Linked DNA regions of Homo sapiens: region 2 is linked to region 1. Evidence: fine-mapped expression QTL. Tissue or cell type: monocytes after LPS. Region 1 holds a variant in brackets; the other region holds the start of a gene. All regions are shown on one strand. Distances are from middle to middle.

Region 1 (8,387 bases):
AATAAATAAAATAAAATGATCAGATAGAAAAGGCATGGACTAGTAATTCACAGAATAAATACCTGTAGGCAAGAAAGATATGAAAAGGTGTTCAACTGCAATGGTCATTAAAATAACATTTAAAATGACCTTTTGTTTTTTGCCCATAAGAGTGACAACAAATAAATAAATGGCATCCAGTGCTGGTAAGGGTGTAAGGAATTAGCCAATCCTATATACAGTAGGTAATATAAAATTTTAAATAGGCATAGCCATTGACCTAGCAATATCAATCCTGGAAGTTCAGCCTTGAGATATTCTTCTGTGGGCATTTACTTAATAATGTTGATTTGCTCTTAATAGCAAAAACTAGAAGTTACTCACATTGGTAGTGGGTTAGTTAAAAAAACTTTGTCCATCCAAATAATAGAGTACTATATATCCCTTTTTTAAAGGGTGAATTATACCTAAATGCACTGATGTGGGAAGATTTCCATGTAGAAAAACAAGTTTTAGAAGACAATGCATAGTATGATCTGATATTCTTAAAAGGTGTACACGTGTGCACACACATTCTAAAGGGTCCTTGCCAACCTCCATTCCTTGCATCTCGCCACGCCCACCTCACACTTCGGATACCAGCGCCATAGGGAACCTCCAGCTTCCCTGATGTGTCATGCATTCTCTTAAGAACACGTGCTCTCCATCTGCCTGGAGCCCTGACCTCCTGCTCGGTGCCTGCCTAATTCCTCACCTTAATCCTATGTTACTGCAGGAATCTGGAAGGGTATACACCAAACTGTTAACATGGATGTTCCTGAGGTTGAGGTGTCAGGGTATTTTCACTTTCTGTATCATACTTTCCTGAATTGTTTGAATTCCTAATAATAATACATTGTAATTATTTTATGATTAGGAAAAAAGAACACTGCAACTATACAGACAACAACTGAAAAATAAAGAGATCAGAAGATCAGATTTTTGCCTCTTGTCCTACAACTATTGCTACATTCTGTCGTCTGTAAATTTCTCCAGTTCCAGTTAGACAGCACCCATCTGTGGACTCACAATCTCCAAATAAAGCCTGAAAAATCTAGGATAGAGGGAGTGAGATAGAGAGGAAAAGGAGGAGGTGACTTGCCAGTGATTTAAAAAGACAGAGCTTACTTCCAAATTTGAGGTTAGGAGACTTGAGTATTTTCAGTGCTACGGAATGAAAGCCCAGGCTTTGGTTCATTGCCCAGCTTCTCAGAGAAGCTAAAGAGAAATAACTTTACTAGGATCCTAGATACATTGTTTTAATTTACTCTATATTATTTAGCACCCCATACCAAAAAGAACTTCAAAGAATGTCCTTTTGTTAACTATAAAATAAATCAAAACTCAACCACTTAATTGATTTTAGGAAAACAGAGTATATTTGTAAAACCTTAGGTATCAGAATATTGAGGTTATAATCTGAGTCTCGCAATAACAAGTAGCGTTCATGTTAGCACATTCCACCCTAAACACAGCAAGTTCTTCTTTATTTTCTTCCTCTCTGTCACCTGCTGACCTCCCCACCCTCCATGCAATGAGGCTCTGGGCTCCATCGATTATCTTTCCTAAGTGCCTCTCAAATCCTTCCATGGCCACTGCTCTACCTTGGGTCCACGTCCTCTCTCGCCTAGACCACTGCCTCACCTGGTCTCCTTTTCCCGAGTGTTCTATTCTCCACATTGCAGCTACACTACTCTTAAAGTGCAAAATGTGAACATGTCCTTTCTCTGCTTTAACCCTTTTGGTGTCTCCCAGAGCTCACAAGACAAAGTCTGAACTCTGAGTCTAGGATAAGGCTTAAGAAGGCTTTCTTACTAGGCACTACCTTGGTTAGAGCAGTGATTCTCAACCCTGAGGTTTAAAAACCATTGTTTTCAATGCCAATGCATTTTGAAAACTCATCCCAGATGATTCCACCCCAAGAAGCCAGATGCCTTTAGTGAGAGAAACGCTGATGAGGGACAAGATGCTGTGTGAGGCCAAGAAGAAGGCAAGTCAGAGGTCCAGAAGTGGATGCAGCCTGGAATTTGGCATTAACCAAAGCTGGCTTTCCAGTTCAGGTTAGGCCTTTGTTCTTAGGATTTGCACCAAATAAGACTCATTTCATCTCATCGCCTGGTCCGGGAGGAAGGTGCTGGTTACATGCTCTAGTCAGGAACTCTTTGAGAAAACAATTTAAATATTGAATCTGCTCTGCTGTAAATAATGCATCAACTTATTTTGAAAAGTGAATATTTAATAAGTTGCAGTGCAGCGATTTGAATGTGGAATTTAATCTGCTTATAAAATCCACAAGTGAAAAACCAATTCATATAAATTACTATAAAGTTTCCATCACTTCTCCGAACATTTCTATATACCGGTTGCGCAAACACACTCCGTGGATGGAACAGGGGCAGGGGGAGGAATTAGATGCCACAGTTTGTTTTTATATAGTTTCTCGTTTCACTTATTTTTCTTTGCCTTCACAAAAATGAAGTCCAAACAGCATACTTCTATTGAGTATTCTTCTATTTTTTATTTATTTATTTTTTTGAGATGGAGTCTCACTCTGTGGCCCAGACTGGAGTGCAGTGGCGCAATCTTGGCTCACTGCAACTTCCGTCTCCCAGGTTCAAGTGATTCTCTTACCTCAGCCTCCCAAGGAGCTGGGATTACAGGCGCGTGCCACCTTGCCTGGCTAATTTTTGTATTTTTAGTAGAGACCGGGTTTCACCATGTTGGTCAGTTTGGTTTTGAACTCCTGACCTCAGATGATCCACCTGCCTCGGCCTCCCAAAGTGCTGGGATTACAGGTGTGAGCCACTGCACCTGGTCTTCTATTGAATATTTTAAAAAGAACTAGAGAGAGAGCAGTGTCTCTTAGGTAACTGTGCATTCTAATTTATAAGTCTTACTACAAGGGTCTTTTCCATTTATTTTTATACTAATTATGTACTCGTTGTTATTATTACCCTTGAACTAGACAGGCCTGCATTTGGATACCTGAGAGTTTAAAAATCTCTGAGAGTTACTAGTTGGGTTTGAAATCCCTGAGAGTTACTAGTTGAGTGACTTCTGGTCAATTGACTTACGCTTACCAAGCCTCTAGTTCTCTGGTTATTGTCTGTGTAAGGTAAGTATGTAAGACTTCTTAAAAACAAGCTAGAAATCGAATGCATATCAGTTCTTCTCCTCTCTTTCCTCCCTCCCCACTCCCCATCATACACTGTACCATAACCTCTGTGTTGTATTTGTGCAGTTGATGATCTCTTCTTAGGACTGAAATGTATTTTCTTGCGGTTATGTACTCTTTGATAATGTCAGTTCAGAAGGAAACATTGGCCCCACTGTAGTACAGGGGGGTATACTGTAGCACAGGAGAGCACTGGTTGGCTGTCAGGAGGCCATTCCAAGTGGCATTTATCCTGTAGGAATTCACAAGGGTTCAAGGTATTGTGTCAGCCATCCAGACATAGGACTTTATTTGTCCTATATACAGATGAAGGGTCTCTCTGCTTGGGGATTATGTATGTTAACCAAGGCCACAGAGACTGATATATACAAACCAGAATGCTGATTCTTTTCATGTATGATGAAAAATATACAATTACTGGTGAGGGGGTGGGCAGTGGTGGGGGTAGGGTGAGACAATTTATTAGAAGTACAAACCAAGGGAAATTGGCTCCACAGTGTCAATGCTTAGGTCACCCTAACAGATCTCTCTCTCTCTCTCTGTGTCTCTCCCTGTCTCTCTCTCTCTCTCTCTCTCTCACACACACACACACACACACACACACGGTTTCATTTTTCTATGTTCTAGTCTGTGCTATTCTGTTCATGCATCTCTCCAACTAAAGTCCTATAACATTCCAACCCATTGCCTTGAGTTCTCCTTGGTTGATCTCCTGGGTGTCCCAACTCTCAGATAGTCCTGTCACACTCATGGGGCTTTATTGCCTAGTTTACATGGGGGTGCTTCTTTCCTGCCTGCTGCTTCCCTCTTTGTGGGTGAAGATCAGTTGCTATAATGGCCTGGCCTTTCTTCCTCTTCCCCTTTCACTCAATTCTTCTCTTTCAGCCCCCAGGAAGACGCAGTAGCTTCTCTCCTTGGTAAATTTGGGAAAAATAAACTGGATGTAAAAAGATCAGCTTTCACCTCTATAGTTTCACTCTCCTTTTCTATGTTTTCAAGGCTAACCAGCCTCTCTGAAGACTGCTTTAAATCTTTATTCTAATATGACAATATGTTCAGTCAGCTCTCCCAGATTTTATATAACTGGGAGTTGTCTTTTTCAGCTCCCCTCAGTGCCTCTCTGCTCTGAGTTAAAATCTGTTGCTTTCAAAGCTTAATTGTCAGATG[C/T]CATTCATTCAAAAAATACTAATCAGTGCAGGTACTGTCCTGGGTTTGGGAAATAAAATGAGAAACAAAATGAACATGGTCTAGCCCTCATGAAGTTCACATTTTCATTTTATTATCTGGTCTTATTTTTGCATTCCTACCTGGGGAAAGCCTCACCACAGCACATTTTTGATGGTAGAAAGAGCTCTGAACCTTTGAATCAGGCAGATCTGGGTGGAATTCTAACTCAGCCACTCACTAGCTGTATGTCAGTAGACAGCCAATGAATTGCTCTGAGCCTTAGTTGTCTTAAAAGTTAAATTGCTATGTAGTTAAAGTCCATGATGCTGTTGTGAGAATAAAATGAAATAGTGCATGCAAAAAGTCTTAGCAGAGAACTTGGAACTGGTAAGCACCTCATAAATGTAAGAAGACACTTACTAATGTAATAAATGTACAATATAATAGCCGCTGTGCTCCCTTTTCCCCCCTGAACTTAAGCTTCTTGTGAGCTGGAACCATGTCTTACACTTCCTAAGGTCATAGTAGAAGCTCAATAAACGTGTCAATTCAATTGATTAGTTAAATGAGATTCACAATAGGCTCTTGTCTTAATTAGCCTTCTGTTTTTTTTATTGGTGATAAACATATCTGGTTTTTCCCCCAAAGCTGTGTAACTATGTAGCCATTGTAAAATATGTCTTTTAATAGCTTCATGTCTAATTTTCTATATTTCAAATATGTCTCCATAAAATCACAATAATTTTTAGCTGTGACTTTGACTAAATCTTCACTAATGTATAAATAATTTTATTGTTAAAAACTAAGAAAATTTAAACTGGTTATTTTAATAGTTTATTTATGTGTTACAATAAATCATACTGGTTATGTATACGAATGGAAGGAGACATTGACATGAAGAGTTGAAGAAAAGGTTAACATATTTTCTTTATGATTTTTGAGTACGGATGTTCCAATGATCCTGGAATTCTCATTGTTTCAAATAAAATGATGAGGTCATTGTAAAAACATCTGAGTTGAGACAGCAGAGTCATGCTTTTGCATCCTGTCCTGTGGAACTGCACTCTGATCTTCAGCTTACCACAAAAATCGGCTATAGCACCTTCAAACTGATGAAATGCTCACCTAAGCCACACTCTTCTGTCAAAGCTGGCTGTTTTCTACATCCTGGCTTCCTTGTTGCTGACTTAAAAGCTTTTCTTATTAGATTTTTATTGGAAAAGTTAACAAATTTTAGGGTATTGGCAAATTGTTCAGTAAAATTATGTTGATGATGTTAACAAGAATGTTAAAGAAAATTTTGCAGGTGATAACACACCGATGGTATGGTAGGAGTTGGGAACCTGGGCTCCCAGACCTCTCGGGGTATCAGTGGATGCTTGAACAAGGTGTTTGGGATACAAGTGGCAATGGTCCACACCCATATGTAATTTTCAGTCAAGTAGGGGAGGTAGACAATAAACACATAATTATAGATAGATAATATGTGTTAAAAGAAAAGTGAATAGGAAGCTGTAAGGAGAATAAGGAGAAGTTAGCTTTGGTAGTTGGTCAGGGGAGGCCCCGCTGAGGAGACTGAATTGAAGAAAGAGAAGGAGTCAGTTTAGGGAGGACCTGGAGAGGCGATGCCTCAGGCAGAGGAGAGCAAGGCAGAGGCTGCGTAGGATGAACTTGGCGCAGTCTCAGAAGCGTGGCTCAGCCGGGCTGGCTGGGGTACAGGGAGGACAACACCCAGCGCCAAGTTCTATTTTATTTAAAGTGCAGTGGAAAGCCACTGAGGGGTTCATAAACCAGGTCGGGACTGGAACTGATTTGCATTTTTAAGTGACTGTTCAATATTTGATGTGGAGAACATTGTAATGGGGTTCACATGGAAGCAGGAAGACCAGTTAGGAAACAAAGCGGTAGTCCAGTGAGAGATGACGGTGGCTTCTATAAGGCTGGTGGTCGTGGGCCTCAGGAAGAAAGGTGGTGTAAATCTAAAGATGCATACATAAAAATATCTCCTAGTTAGATCACTGCTTTCTTAAAATAATGAGAATTGAGTGTCTTACAGGCAATGTCGTCCTCAAAACACACACTGACATTACAGAACAATGTCTCATTTCCACATAAATGCATAGATTTGACAGGCACTTTTCATTGAATCCTCACATCTGAGCAGAAGAGAACACTCATACCAGCCATAAGCATAGGAACTCGGAGATGGTGACTGATTCTCCTGCCAAGCAAACTCCTGTTCTTCGTGATTGGCAGAGGCTGCCATGTGGGCAACAGGTCTGTCTATGTACAACTGTCTTAAAATTGGCTGGAGTATTGGGTCTGTGTGGGAGGTGTGTATTATTAAAGGTATATTGGGAAGATATAGGTAACCCTCCCAGGTTACCTTGGGAGGATGTAGTGAATGAAGATGATGTGTGTGCGTGTGTGTGTGTGAGCGTGCTAGTGTGACTTGCTGCTTTAATAGCTTATGCATCACCATAGCCAGCTATAAACGGAACAAGTTCATAGAAACTCCATTAATAAAAAGCGTCAGAGAAATGGCTTCACTTATTGACATAAGTATAAAACCTCTCCACAGTATACTTCGTATGACATCAAAATTCCTTGGCAGCAACTATAACAGATTTGAAATAAATAACTTGGTAAAATCAGTCTACAAAACCTATAGTCTGTGAGGCATAATTTGGGCCTGTTCTCTAGGTAATGAAATAATTATACAAAATGGCGTAATTTGGTTTGAACACAGTAAAGGAAAAGAAAACTCAAGACTTCCATTTAACTGTATTTTTTCTCTCAAGGTCCTGAAATCTGTGGCTTACTAGGATTTGGGAGTGGAAATCCATTTTGTTTAGGTGACTGAGATGTTTGAGGTGGGGAGAAGTTAAAAGGAAGCGGGGCTGCTACTTGAAGGTAGAACAAAAGCTGGACCCTGGATCATAGATGCGGAAAAATACTCTCTTCTCCCCTGGGTTGCATGCAGTGGGAAGACCACCCACTTCCCCAACTCCAACCCTGTCTGCCTTTCAAATCTTGTTCAAGTACCCTTTTTTTTTTTTTTTTCCTCGAGACAGAGTTTCACTCTTGTTGCCCAAGCTGGAGTGCAGTGGTTCTATCCTGGCTCACTGCAACCTCTGCCTCCCGGGTTCAAGCAATTCTCCTGCCTCAGCCTACCGAGTAGCTAGGCTTATAGGCGCCCGCCACCACGTCCGGCTAATTTTTTGTATTTTTAGTAGGAACGAAGTTTCATCATGTTGGCCAGGCTGATCTTGAACTCCTGACCTCAGGTGATGCACCCGCTCGGCCTCCCAAAGTGCTGGGATTACAGGCATGAGCCACCATGCCTGGCCTCAAGTACCTTCAATTGGCAGAACGTTATTTGCATTTAGAATCCTAAATTCAAAATAATCTGAAAATAATTGTTTTCAATTTTGCAATGAAGGAAAGCACCCAAGAAAATAGGTTGGAATTGGTGCTGAGGACCAATTCGTCACATCTGTTACAGAAGAGAGAACTGGGGGGATGATTTTAGTGGAATGAGTCTCTCCTTCCCTCAGGTCAAAAAAGAAGAGCTTCAGGGACACTACTCAGAAAGCTAGAAGTGTGTCCTCTGCAGTTTGGGCATTAGGGTGGGATGTATTCTGACTCCTGCCTGGGGAGTGTGAAAATGAGAGACACTCTGACTACAGGAGCAAAGCAATTTGGCACTGCATCATGATTGGCCTGTTCTTCTAGAGCTTCAGATTCAAGAGGAAGAAAGTAAAAGGAAGCATGAAGGTTTCTGATGTACTTGATGGCCCACATTCCAAAGAGAGCTGATGTGGAGTTGATTCATGTCTGTCCATGTGGGTTGTCTGAAGAGGAGAAGGGGCTTCACCAGGAAGAGGCTGGAGGTCAGCCATGAAATTCTTAGGAGTGAGGAAAGAGGTGTGGCATGGAACAGGAAGAGAGTACAGCATTTCCAAACATTTCCCCTAAGAAAAGGAATTGGGTTTATTGCCTGCCAGGCCTGGGGAGGATGCTGAAG
Region 2 (8,387 bases), 430 kb after region 1:
GGACATATTAATACTTAAAGGAGATTTGAAGTTAATTTTTCCCAGTTAATAACTCCCTAATTTATATTTTTAAGAATTCAAACTTTATATATTGGGTTTACTTTAAATGAGAAATGCCTGTAGATTATTTACACATTTCTGAATATTGACTACAATTGTCCTCTTCAATATTTTAATTAAATTCTTCCAAATAATTACTGAAACTTTTTTTCATAATGTCAACCTGAAGATGTTTCAGTGTAAGGCAATTCTTTAAACTACCTAATGTGAAATAATTGTCTTCCAGAAGTATAAATGGTGACAATATTTTAGAAGATCCTATTCTATTTTATTTGTTTATTTTTATTTTTTCATTTATTTTTGAGACGAAGTCTTCCTCTGTCACCCAGGCTGGAGTGCAAATGAATGGCCTGATCTTGGCTCACCGCAACCTCTGCCTCCCAGGTTCAAGCAATTCTCCTGCCTCAGCCTGCTGAGTAGCTAGAATTACAGGTGCCCGCCACCATGCCCAGCTAATTTTTGTATTTTTAGTAGAGACGAGGTTTCACCATGTTGGCCAGGCTGGCCTCAAACTCCTGACCTCAGGTAATCCGCCCATCTCGGCCTCCCAAAGTGCTGGGATTACAGGCGTGAGCCACTGCGCCCAGGCTTATTCTATTTTAGAAGCTTGCCTGTATATAAAAAATTACTTATCTTACTAGGTTTCCATATACTCACCAACAATTGCCTATTAAAGACATTTATTTAACAATTTTTGAATTTCCAGACTTACTTTTTCAATAATATTCCTCCTTCTCAAACATCTTTGATTTATATTAATGTCTAGTAATACTTTCATTCATTGCCCTCTAACAACCTGCCCTGCACTCTGCTAATGAGTTCTTTATGTAACTTATCTTACTTAATCTTGTTTCAGACAAAAGAAAGTGAAGCTCAGAAAGACTGAGCCAAAAGCATTCATAAATGGTAAAGCCAGCATCTGCATATAGGTCCTCTGCCTGCAAGCTCCACACTTGTTTTAACAATGCTACACCTGACAAAATAAGCATCTTGTCATTCCTAGGTGAAAGCTTATAGGTATGTTTTCTCCCTCAGATGCTATTTTGTAACTTCTAACATGTTTTTATTTTTATCTTGGTAAATTTTTCACCTAAGAAAATAAAATTAATACAGAAATTTTAAATATATCTATGTTTTAAAGGTAAAAACAAAGTTTATAAATTTTAACTTCATTTTTGTCATTTAAAAATTATTAATAATTCTTCAAAGTTTTACCACATGAGCATATTTAGGTATAAAGAGAAAATACTACTGGATAGCTGCTATTATATGTGCAAACTGTCAAAGAAAAATAAAATAAGCCATGTTAATAAATCCTTGTTAATAAGATTTACTGTTTAAAACATGTTTTTTTAATTTGACCTAGAAGAGACAAAAAGGCTACATGTGTAAGAATCTCTATTCAACAGAACTATTTTATATTAGTATTTTCATTCACTTTAATTTTTACAAAAGAATACATATTTAATTTGCTTAATCTCAATTTTACAACATCTGATAATCAACATTTTTTTCTTTCAAAATGTTTTGGCCAATAAATCCTCTTATGCTAAATAATATGTTACTTTTTCTTCAATTCATTTCAGCTATTTCCAAACTATTAATCAAGTGAACTCCTACTAATTGCTTAGTCAGTAGTATTTACATCTGTCATTATTTGCTAATCTTTTGGATTTTAGAAATATTTGTGTTTTTTCCTTTAGCAAAGTAGAATGCAAATACTACACATCTTCTGATTTGTATAGATCCTAGTCCACGATGTAACTTTTCAAATGCAGAAATAAGCCATTTGTTATTTGGATAAATATACTTTTTCTGGGTATATTTTCCTGCAGATAAACTACCATTCAGAAAAGTTTATATTACATTTTTTTCTTGGTAATCTACTCCTATTTGGGGGGGGGGGCTCTTTTTGATATACACTACTGTATCCAATTACTATCAAATTAATATTATAACATGTTGAAATCATGAATATTTTAGTTATCTATATTTTCCCTTGCTAAGTTCAATTTCCCAATGATTAAAAAATGGTACTTTTAGTCTCAAATTTTAAGTTAAATAAACTAGTTGTTCCTGCAAAATGACTGTAATTCAAATGAAAATTGTTAACACGTTTAGAAGAACAAATAAATTACCTTAGTAAAAATTTAGACATTTTCTAGTATTATGTACTGTAATTTTACCTAAACTATGACAGGAAGGCAACAACTGTCACACATTTTCAAAATATATACAGCACTTCCAGTAAGATAGTCGGAACTGCTGGTATTTCTACTCACACTGATCATGTGAGGAATATTATCACGGGCATCATCACCTTAGAAAATAAAAATCAGCTAGCTATGCAAATTTTAAGTATTTTTATACAGTAAATTTTACATATAAGAATAATCTGAGGGAAGGAAACTGATATTTATCTCATTACCCTTGTTGCAGTTGGGTATAAAAACGTCCACCACTCCCATTTTGAATCATTTGCCGTACAGAAAATACAGGACATTTTAATTTCTCATGATGGCAGGTTAGGGAGAGAAAGGCTTGTTATTTCTAAGAGCAAGAAACTACAGTTTTATAGGATTGAACACCTGGAGGCGTAAACATTTTATAAATCACTGAATTCTAATTACATAGTAGTTTATACGCCAGATACAACATACGTCAAAAGCCTATCTTGTTCTAAGCGGGCAGCCATCCACCGGCGTCTACCTACCGAAGCCATTTCTGCTTTTTACCAGCGACGCTGGAACAGTGTTATTGTGGGATATGTTCAGTGTTGAACAGGCTCCCAGGGCACGGCTGTTACTTTGGAGGTTATGCTGGGGTACAGAAGTTAGGCTGGGGCAGGGCCATCCACCTAGGAGGGCCCAGCACAGTCTGGGCAACCACACCGGCGGGCCGTTTTGCTCACAGCCCCACCGCGCCGGGCAGCGTCTGCAGCTGCTGCGTGCGAGACCCAGAGGCTCCGGTCAGCGCGCCGGCCGCAGGGAGTGCGAGCACTTGTGAGCCCCGCGCCGGGCCGGTGAAGTCTGGTGCTGCCGAGCCCGCTTAGAAAGCACGGCCGCGCGCTGTCGGACGCAGGCCCACAGGCCCAGCCGACCCAGGCAGCAATTTTCCTAGCCCCGCCGCCGTTGCCAAGGCGACCGCCGCCGAATGTTCCCGCCGCGGGCTCCGCCCCCCGGCCAATCGGACCGGCGCTCGGTGAAGCCCAGATTCTCTTTGTTCCGCAGCCATTTCAGGCCCCGGACAGGAGGCAGTGCCGCTTCGGCCGAAGGCCCGAGCGCCCGAGGCGTCTGGGATGGTGTGGGACCGGGTAGGTGGCGTGAGGGTGCGCGGCCCCGAACTGCAGGGGCGGGAACGGAGGCTGGGAGCGCCGAGCTGCCTGACGCGCCTACGGGAGAGACGCCGGGCTCGCCCGCTCTCTCGGCGCCTGCCCGGCCGTTTGAAGCCGAGAGGCAGCGGCGGCGCGGTTCTAACCCCAACAGCTGCCCGCCCAGGCGCCCTGCGGGACCCGGGTAGGGAGCAGGCGACGGCGGCTCCTCAAGCGTCCGAGGATCCCGTTAGGGGCGGCAGGAGCCCGTTACAAGGGGCGGGAAGGGAAGGGTCTTACATTCAGGGGAGCGTTTGCCTCGCCTGTTAAGCTGTGGCGTTTGAGGGCCCTTGAGTGCTGCAGTCGGCTGCCCCGGGACGGCTGCCTTTCACTGGTTCTGGGCGCTGGCCGGCGCTGCCCGAGATGGGCCAGTCTTTGTCCCGCCCTGGGCCCCTCTGCCCGGGTCTCCTGCGTCCGCACACAGCGCCCATCGTCCTTACATGCAGCTTGCCGTTCTCTTCCTCCCGGCGGTTCTTTCTCCTTGGGGCCTCTTGGCCTCACGACATGTTTACATAATGTTTGTGACTGTACGAGTTTTGCGTGGGCTTGTGGGTTTTGCCCTTCTACCTCCACTCCCATGCGTACAAGCAACAGGGAACAGCTGCTGAGGAGCAGATTGGCCACCACAATCAAGCTATTTTCGGAATGACTTTCTTTAAAAATGATCGCGTGTTGCTTACTGATTTTAAAAATCAACTGGATTTTGCAAGGATTGCTTAGAGTTTAAGTCTGTTATCTTAATCGCTAATCAGGATGGTCTATCAGTAGATGTAAATGTAGAAATTTGAAATTGGAGGCTATCTACAAATTGATTTTGACAGCTGTATTAAGAAGCTTAATAACTGTCCTTTGAAACAGTAATGACTTAAATGATGAATGTGTAAGTGGTACTTTTTTTACCCTAAAGAAAAGATACTTTTAAAATTGCAAGATGTATGGTGTAATAGGTGTTTGGAAATGAAGGTTGTAAAATGGCTGTCCTGACGTACTACTCACTTTTAGAATAACAAAAGTTCCTGCAGCTTTTTAAGTTTCCCTGTTATATCAAAGCTTTCATGTTAGAGTGGTGAAGAAGCTATGTTTAGTGGAAAAGGGGAAAGTTCCGTTTTTTGGGAAAGGATCTGTTTTCCACTTTCACCTTACCTGGCACCGTAGTTGTTCCTAGAGAAGGCTGTGCCAGGATGAAAATTAGCAACCACAAAAGGGAAACAATAGTTTGTAGGTGCAGATATCTTTTTTAGTCTCTAGCTATGCAGTGCATAAATTTATACTAGCTTGGCAGTACGATTTTTACTTCATGCAATTTAACGTGAGCCTAATGAAGTACTAGTGTTCTGTTTTCTTTTTCCTAAAAGGGGCCGCCACCCTTGATGTGGCTGCATCTTTCTCCTAGTCAGGAATTATTAAATTCCTCCCACTGAAATATCTATAAAAATCTTGTTTGCACTTCTACCTCAACTCTCAGTGGCTTTATTACCATTATATAATGTGAGCAGAATAAGATTTTTGTAAAAATACATGATTCTAGTTGTAAGCTTTTCCAATATCAACATTTCTTATTGTATTCATTGTTTTTATGACTGTAGTTTTGCTTATTTATAATTTTAAAGCCATTCCATGAACTCAGTTTTTCTAAATGTTGTAAATGAGCTACTACATTGAAATGTAAACATCTGTATTTAGAAGAATTTCTTGAATTTTAACCATGTTGGATTCTGCAAATGTTTTTTTAAGAAAAGAAACCTGGTTATAAAGTGACGTCAAACCAAGTGACATAGGTAATGAAATAAATGAATTTATCAAATATAAACTGCAGAGAGGAGCACAGCAGTAAGTGGGGGAGTTCTTTTTATTGGCCAGGGTATAAATTGTGATATTTTTTCCTGAGATTGATATTTGAATACATATTGGTGCTAAAAAGATATCTTCCCCCCTCAAAACAGTTTGGTTTACCAGCAAAAGGATGAGAAAGCTGAGAGAATCAAAGAAACTGATGAGGTTTTCAAAAACAATGGCGAACAATGCCATCCTCAAAGAGGAAGGATCAGAAACAGTGAAATTCCCCTGGAGGTTGAGGATTTTTCTTAGTTGACCCTATTCAGCCATTGCCATGGTAAATCTGTTGAGTGTTGGCAGGTGAAGGAGTCTTCTGGGTTGTACAAGGGATGAGCTTCACAATGGAAGACAGATGTTTGCAAGAGTGGTGCCTTAATCCGTATTGTGTTGCTGTAAAAGAATACCTGAGACTGGGTCATTTATAAAGAGAAGAGGTTTATTATTTAGCTCACGGTTCTGCAGGCTGGGAAGTATAAGAAGCAAGGCGCCGCCATCTGGTCAGCTTGTTGTGCTGCATCATAACCTGCTAGAGAAGGTCAAAGGGGAAGCCACCCCAGGCAAAGAGGGGGAAATCTGAGGGAAGGGCCTGGCTTTCTAACAACTCACCCTCAGGGAACTAAATCATGTCCACCAGATCATGATCAGATTTCAACATGAATTTTGATGGAGACAGACACACCATATTCAAACCACAGCAAGTGGTAACTGATTTGTAGTTGTATGCGTGGATGTTAGTTAGGAGAGGTTTTCAAAAGCAAGTTTGATTGGGTTGCTTTGAAGGGTCCTTTGAAGTACTGTAAGTTGCTGTAGTAAGTAGGAATATTAGAGTTCTAGAGTCTGAATGGTCAAATGAGATATTGAAATGGGAAATAGGGAGGTGGATTTGTCCTGGAATTTTCTGGAGTAGATAGAATACATATAGGAATAGTGGCTACATCTTAATCCAAAAAGACACTCCATGCCAGAGCGAATATTACAACTCAGTACTGAAAAAAAGCTGATAACCGTGAGACCATAAAGTTGGGATTGATATATGCCTTTTTAATGGTTAAATTTTTAAAACAAAGCAAAACTTTTCAATGTAGTGTAGAGAACAGGCGCTTTGGAGCCACACTATTTGGATTCAGATTTTGGCACCTTCTGTAATTATCTGTGTGACCTTGGGCAAGTTATTTAATCTCACTTTTTCATCTTATGTTATGAGGATTAAATGAGTTAATACACTAAGCTCTTAAAACTGGGCCTGACATGTATTAACTTTTCTATAAATAATAACTGCTGTTATCATCAATGTCATTATCACTGTTAATTATTTCAGAAAACTATAGAAAACCATAAAATAAAAATTACAAATATCAGTACTACGTAGTAACTACTGTAAGCCCTTTTGCGCATTTCCTTCCAATGTTTTTTTCTGAGTTTATTGGATTTTTTTCACAGTTGAGACTTTACTATGTGAGTAATTTTGTATTCTCACCATAAGCATTTTCTTATGCTACTTAATTATTTTGTCACCATATTTAATGTTTGCATGTTTGTGTGGATTTCTCATTATTAAACAGTTTCTAATTTTTTTGCAGTTATAAGAAACACTGCAATGAACATCCTCATACAAAAATCAATTTCTGCATTCTGGATTATTTAGAGTCCCCAAAGCAAAAATACTGAGTCAAAGTAAACATCCAAAGCTCATGGTCCATACTGCAAATTGCTTTTACTTAAGGGAATTTAATAATGAACTTATTAATATAATAAATTGAGACTACACAGTATTGTTCCTGTTGCTTTGGGATTGGAGGAATAGAGAGTGGATTAACGTTTTCCTTGTAATGTACTAGACATCATTTGTAGGCATTTAACATACATTGTCACTTTCATGTACATTTTTCTCATTTATTATGTTGGCTCTGTGTTATACATGGAAGTTACTTCTATTTTACTGATGAGAAAACAAAGTGTAAATAGGTAAGTACTTTGTCCAAGGGCTCAGAGCGTTCGAGCCTGAATCTGAATCTAGATCTGCTTGACTGCAAAGCTCATCATGCTGTTTTATTTGTATACTTTTATATCATATACATATTCAGAATTTTATACTATAACTAACTATAGATCACAGACCACATTTTTAAGATAGCTAAACTGAGCTGGGAATAATGAATGGGTAAGTTGCAAAGTTAAACAAGACAGGGCTTAACTTTCCACATTTTAGAAAAAGAAAATCTTTACCTGGATGAGATATAATTGGTAACAACTATATAAAACCGGGTTCTAAAGTGAATGCACCAAATATCTGTGGGTGCAATTCTTAATGATCTTAACACAAATAGGTGAGAGAAAACCAAAGAAATCTCAAATTTGATTAAATTTGGGGAATAAGAGAAATGAAAAGGCCCGTAAGTGCTAAAATTGAAATATACGTTTAGTAAAACTCCTGGTAAAGTAAATGAAGGTTTTACTGGGGAAACAAGCAAAAAAATATGTGTTTCACATAAGGAGAATAGAACTGCCTACAAGGTGTAGGAAGTTAAATTTATACTGAAAATTAGAGAAAAATTCATATTTGAGTTGCATTTTATAGATGACTCCGAAGCCATTAGTAAAATAATTTATTAGTGGAGCCCCTTTATCCTAGATGCATATGTTTCTACCACAAATGAAAAAGTTAATGCTAGGAAGGATAAGATTCCACCACTTTTGTTTTTACTAAGAAAGGAATTAAGGAAGAGAAGTATTTCAGCAAATCATGAATATACTAAATAAATGCAAATAAATTATTAGGAATAGGTGGTATCCAACAAGATTTTAAAGATAAGAATATAAAAGTACAGAACTATTGATTATTATGCTACCATTTGAAATTGTGTTTTTGAAAAATATTTAATGAAATTAAATATATATTTTGACTGGAGCATAGCAGAACTAGGAAATGATGAGAGAGCTAGCAAACCATGAAGGACTTTTGTGCCATTTATTAGTGCTGGGATTATCTCTTGTCGAGAGATTTACATACTAGTGGAGAAAGAGATATGTAAATAAACAAGTTCAATAAGTGTATTTACAGCTTTTGTGATATAAATCTGTAAAAACACCAAGAAAGGCCAGTAATAGATTCGTTGAATAG

Alleles and levels. Positions count from the first base shown, and alleles are read on the strand shown. Sizes are in standard deviations (SD) of each study's normalised expression.
With allele T in place of C in region 1, the expression in monocytes after LPS of the gene that starts at base 3,282 in region 2 is lower (moderate effect, 0.46 SD a copy in Fairfax 2014).

What was found. PIP is the estimated chance that this variant, and not a neighbour inherited with it, causes the effect.
Region 2: it holds the start of TNPO1, and the variant in region 1 is fine-mapped to the expression of TNPO1 in monocytes after LPS (Fairfax 2014, PIP 0.90).

What each region holds. Positions count from the first base shown.
Region 1 is chr5:72,382,824-72,391,210 of GRCh38, forward strand. No RefSeq gene overlaps it. Among named protein-coding and RNA genes, the nearest start is that of PTCD2, 67 kb to the left of the region's middle. The variant C/T (reference allele first, on the strand shown) is at 4,361.
Region 2 is chr5:72,813,380-72,821,766 of GRCh38, forward strand. It overlaps TNPO1 (transportin 1), which reads left to right and starts at 3,282. Exons shown (of 25, transcript NM_002270.4): 1 at 3,282-3,373. The coding sequence starts at 3,359. TNPO1-DT (TNPO1 divergent transcript) reads right to left here and starts at 3,169. Exons shown (of 9, transcript NR_186518.1): 1 at 2,774-3,169. RefSeq lists enhancers at 2,849-2,928, 4,009-4,058 and silencers at 3,189-3,288, 3,329-3,548.